Regions from separate parts of the Homo sapiens genome. Here region 1 is linked to region 2. The links come from fine-mapping of genetic effects on gene expression. Tissue or cell type: blood mononuclear cells. Region 2 holds a variant in brackets; the other region holds the start of a gene. All regions are shown on one strand. Distances are from middle to middle.

Evidence for each region.
Region 1: it holds the start of GPD1L, and the variant in region 2 is fine-mapped to the expression of GPD1L in blood mononuclear cells (TOPMed, PIP above 0.99).

What each region holds. Positions count from the first base shown.
Region 1 is chr3:32,104,956-32,107,849 of GRCh38, reverse strand. GPD1L (glycerol-3-phosphate dehydrogenase 1 like) reads right to left here and starts at 1,230. Exons shown (of 8, transcript NM_015141.4): 1 at 1,092-1,230. The coding sequence starts at 1,138. RefSeq lists silencers at 828-967, 1,088-1,497.
Region 2 is chr3:32,172,941-32,175,855 of GRCh38, reverse strand. No RefSeq gene overlaps it. Among named protein-coding and RNA genes, the nearest start is that of CMTM8, 64 kb to the left of the region's middle. The variant G/C (reference allele first, on the strand shown) is at 1,687.

The sequences.
Region 1 (2,894 bases), 68 kb after region 2:
CCTTATAATGCAGTGATGCAGGCCAGCAATAGGGACACAGAGAGAGGCCACTGGCCTTGCTGGGATGGAAAAGTGAAGAACCAGGTAAGGTTTCCTTCAATAAGTACTTTCTGGGCCAAGTCTTGAAAGAGTAAAACTAAGACCAACTACCTAGGACCAGCTGCTGCAGCACTTCTGATGCCTGTCACGCCACAGAAAAACCGGTAAACAGAAGCACTGAAAGGACATCATCACTCTTAACTATTGTACACCAGTCCCTCCAATGTGGCAGAGTGTACAGCAATGAAAAAAGGCTTGGAAACACCAGATGCTACACTTTGCTTCCTTCCCCCTTCACACCCCCACCTCTACATTCACCCAAACACACCAGAGAATCCCACAGTGTACGTTTGATTAAGGGTACTAGAAGAACTGACATTTCTAATGTGCTCTATAAAATGTTAAAGTCAAATAAGGCCCCAAAGAGACGCAAAGCTTCGCAAACATCTCGGCAAGGGAGAATTCTCAACGCCTCAGGGAGAGCGGCCTGTTGAAACTTGGATTTTCTTCCTGATACGACGCGCCTAAGATAGTGGACCTATCAGAAGCGGGGGCGAGACGGGCACCTTGAAGGGCAGAGCATGCCCCGCCCGTGACCTGGGCAGCAAGAGCCCTTTAGCCCTCTCCGCCTCGGTTTCCTCAACACCGAAACTGCAGTAAGAATGCTCGAGCCTCCACCAAGTCCTTGACCCAGGAGATCCGCCGTGGAGAACGGAATACGCCCTTAGGATATTGTGCAAAACACCCAGGCGTGGCAAGCAGGTGGCTTCTGTGCGCTCAGTAACGGGGGCGCAGACAGGTGCCCGCGTGCTCGGGGTGCCCTCTCTCCGCGCTGTCCCCCGCACGCACGCGAGCCCAGCGCCTCCCGAGCGAGTGCCCCGGTGCGGCCTCCTCGGGCGCACGGTGCCCAGCCCAGCAACGAGGTCGCCCACCCCGCCTCCCTGCGCGCAGTGCCCGGTGCCCACGCCGCAGCATGGGGCGCGCAGCCCTCACCGCCCGGGAGAGGCGCTTCCTGGAAGCGGAGCCCCGGCCTCCAGCCCGCCGCCGCTCACCAGTTCCCCGAGCCCACGATGCACACTTTCAGGGGCGCCGCTGCCATGGCCGGGCCGAATGTAGCCGCCTGGACCGTGCTTCCCTGGCCGGCTGCCCACCTCCGCCTGTTCAGCCTTGCCCGCAGCGGCTGGCGGCGGCCCCGCCCCTTTCGCCTCTCCGCCAATGGTCGCGGCCACCCCCGCCCGGCGCCGGGGGCCGCAGCTGACAGCGGGGCAGGACCCGCTTCGCCACTCCCAAGAACCACTGCGCACGCCTGGCCCCGGCCGGCCTCCAGGCCCGGCTCCGGCACCGCCCCGCCCTGCCCGAGGCACGTCGGGACATGTAGTCCTCACCCCCCGTCGCTGCGCGGCCCTAGGCAGCAGCTCCCGCCGCGCCACATGCAGGCCCAGGCCACTGAGCAGCGACTCGCGCCCCTGGTTCCCGGTGGAGGCTGCACTCCATCCTCATGGGTGGAGCAGACCCAACCAGCTTGCCGTGGTGCCCCCTACACGCTCCTTTTTCCCTACTCGGGAAGGGCTGCCACATTGCCATTTGGAGCCGAGAGAGGCTCCTAGGTTGACTCTCAAGCCGACCAGACTTGGGGCAGAGCTCGAAATGCCCACCCGACCTTGTCATCCTCTGTTTCATTTGCACAAACAAGACACAGCCTGGCACCTCTGAACTTCTTAGAGAACTTGGATCTTCAGAGGACTTTGGAATTTGGCTGAACAGTACCTGCATTTCAAGGATGACACCTTTTCTAGTTAGAGTCAAGATAGAAACTTGACCTGGTGCAGTGGCTCACACCTGTAATCCCAGCACTTTTGGAGGCCGAGTCAGGAAGATCACTTGAGCCCAGGAGTTCGAGACCAGCCTGAGCAACATAATTAGGACCCCCCACCCCTCTGTACAAAAATTTAAAAAATTAGCCAAGCATGGTGGCACGCACCTATAGTCCTAGCTACTCAGGAGGCTGAGGCGGGAGAATTGCATGTGCCCAGGAGGTCGAGGCTTCAGTGAGCCAGGATAGGGCCACTGCACTCCAGACTGAAGGACAGTGAGACCCTGTCTCAACAAAAAATAAATACATAAAAATAAAGGGAAAAAGGTAACAACAGCTTGCATTCAGTGGGTGTCACCCTCACACGCTTACTTGGCAGGAATTGCTTTACCATTGTCTTTGCCCAGGGCCTGACTTATCCCTTGCTTGTGGTTTGTTTGCATTTGTGAGTAACACAATGCTCTCCTCCTTGACAAATAGAATCTTAGTTTGTTCATTCTGAGCATCAGTCTCTGCCAGGCACTGTGCTAGACGCTGTCAGAGTAGGACAAAGTCCTTTAAACCAGTGGTTCTCAAACTCTGCTGCATATTAGTCACTGGGGCTTTTAAAAATCCCCATGCCCAGACACCATTGCAGGCCAGTTACATCAGAATGTCCCATGGTGGGATCCAGGCATCAGGATATTTACTTATTGACATATATTTTTTGAGACAGTCTCCTTCTGTTGCCCAGGCTGGAGCAGAATTTTTTAAAGTTCAAGAGGTAGTTGCAAAAGCAAGCCAAGATTGAGAACCAGAAGACTAAAATATCAGTGGATTCTGGCTAAAGAAACAAATACTCTAGTACCTACAAAAAACTAAGCCTAGGCCGGGTGCCGTGGCTCACGCCTATAACCCCAGCACTTCAGGAGGTCGAGGCAGGCAGTTCACCTGAGGTCAGGAGATGGAGACTAGTCTGCCCAACTTGGCAAAACCCCGTCTCTACTGAAAATACAAAAAATTAGCCAGGCATGGTGGCAGATGCCTGTAATCCCAGCTACTC
Region 2 (2,915 bases):
TTCACAGCATGCCAACTGCCTAGGGAAGTTATTCACGAAGAGCGACCTCTAGTGGGCAAGGGTCATAGTTAATTAGAACCTGGAACTCTCCCAGAAAAGCATCTTACCCCCATTTCAGCTTGTTTTGACAACAGCTTGAAGAGGTTTTGAATAAATAGTGAATTTGTGATTAAAAAAATGTTTCTTGTTTTAACATTCGTTATAAACATCTCATTTACATGAACATTTCTGTGACTATAAAAACTTTCAAGGCCAGGTGCGGTGGCTTACACCTGTGATCCCCGCACTTTGGGAGGCCGAGGTGAGTAGATCACCTGAGGTCAGGAGTTCAAGACCAGCCTGACCAACATGGTGAAACCCCGTCTCTACTAAAAATACAAAAAACTAGCTGGGCGTGATGGCGGGTGCCTGTAATCCTAGCTACTTGGGAGGCTGAGGCAGAATTGCTTGAACCTGGGAAGTGGAGGTTGCAGTGAGCCAAGATTGTGCCATTGCACTCCAGCCTGAGTGACAGAGCAAGACCCTGTCTCAAAAAAAAAAAAAAAAAAACTTTCAGTACCAACTATTACAACTATATAGTAAGATGGCTGCTTTAACACAATTGTAGTTTTGAATAACAAAAAATTTTATTTTTTACAGTGAAACTGACAGGAGAGACATAAATTATTAAGTACAAAGGCTCACATTTCTGGGACTTATTTGGTTCAATTTAGGTCTCTGGTTATTATAAAGAATTCCCTAATAGAGGCTGTAGAGGTAATTAGGAACAGAAAGTGAGGTCAGAAGCATAAATTGCAGCCATCTTTGTGAAGGGGGATTTGGCGGTTTCCATTAAAGTATAGAACACACATACCTTTGAGCCAGCAATTCCGCTTCCAGGATTTTATGATGTAGATTCACTCATATAAATGAGCAGAAATCCATGTGCAAGAATGTTTTCTGCACCAGTTATTATAATAAAAAGAAAACAAACATTTATCTGTAATAAACTAAGGAAGAGTCATAGAAAATGATGCAGATATGTAGAATGATGTAGGAGATTATATTGATACAGAAAGTTCAATATTAAAACTATTAAAAAAGTTTTAAAACAGTATTGTCTTAAAATATATCGCATGCATGAACACAGTACATTTATGAAAGTCTGCAAAAGAATTGAATGATTACACTTTCAACCCTTCACATCATTGTTTGCTTTTGCTTAACTATGAACACCCATTACTCAAAGGAGTTAATGTAGTCTTATCTAAGAGTTAAGAACACAGACTTTTAAGCCAAACTCCCCAGGTCCAAAACGTGGCCTCATTAATTACTATCTCTGTTATTTGGACACGTTCTTTATCCTCTTTGTGCCTTAGTTTCCCCATCTGTATATGGGGGTGATACATTTTTATTAATGTTCATCTATGCAAAGCACTTAGAACAGTGCTAAAAGTGGGCCAGGCATGGTGGCTTATACCGATAATCCCAGCACTTTGGGGGGCCAAGGCAGGAGAATCACTTGAGGCCAGGAGTTCAAGATCAGCCTTGGTAACATGGTGAGACCCTGGTTTCACAAAATATTCAGAAATTAGCTGGGTGTGGTGGCTCATGCCTGAAGTCCCAGCTATTGGAAGAAGCTGAGGCAGGAGGAATGCTTCAGCCCAGGAGTTGGAGGCTGCAGTGGGCTAGGATCGAGCCACTGCA[G/C]TCCAGCCTGGGCAACAGAGGGAAACCCTGACTAAAAAGAAAGAAAAAGAGCAGTGCTGAAAGTGTTTCGCTACTGTTATTTTAACTTACAATTTTAAAAACTAGGTGTTGATATATTAGGGAAAATTGGGTGAAGGGTACCTTTGCAATTTACTATGAATCCGTAATTATTTCAAAGTAAAAAGTTAAACATGCAGTTATTAAAAATAACTGATATAAAAGATTGTCAAGATGTCATGTTAAGTAAAAAAAGCAAGATGTGTAACAATGCATCAAGTAAGCTCAATTTTATGTAGAGAAATGGGGAAGGGAATGAGAATATATATATTTTGCTTATGTGTGTGAAATGAAATTCTAGAAGAGATTGTTAAAAACTAATAACTACTTGGGAAGCAGGCTTTATTTTTGAACCAAATGACTGTGTTACCTATTGAAAAATTATTTAAAAATAAGACTAGTAACAAAAATGCAAATAACACTTCCATCATAGCATAAAAGCATTTCCATTTGTAACGAGTCAAATAACACCAATTTGACAAATAACAGGGTGCATTGAGTTCAACAGTAAAGTACTTTCCAGTGGCACTATTTCACTCACAATGTGTACAATTCAGACAAGTTTAATTCCTAAGTCTTTGAGGGGGAGCTGAAGAACCACTCCTTCAGGTTTCAGACAGACAGGTTTCAGGAGGTTACAAGTAGCATATGGCCTTATCTAAGATCTAGTGACATTTCTAACTTAAAGCTTTTGAAATGAGGAAGACATCTTAAGGACATCACCACCTGGTGAAGACTTCTCTGATGTTAAGCACATGTTATAAGTCCTGGAACTTGCTGGCATTAGTCCTAGAGAAAGAAGGATGAGGCTGAGCATGGTGGCTCATGCCTATAATCCCAGCACTTTGGGAGGCCGAGGCGGATGGATCACGAGATCAGGGGTTTGAGACCAGCCTGGCCAACATGGTGAAACCCCGTCTCTACTAAAAATACAAAAATTAGCCGGGTGTGGTGGCATGCACCTGTAATCCCAGCTACTCTGGAGGCTGAGGTAGGAGAATCACTTGAACCTGGGAGGCGGAGGTTGCAGTGAGCCTAGACTATGCCATTGCACTCCAGCCTGGGTGACAGAGTAAGACTCTGTCTCAAAAAAAAAAAAAAAAATAGAGTGAGAGGGAGAAAGAAGGACTATTGGATATACAAATTTGGATTTAGCCAGAGTTATCCTGGGT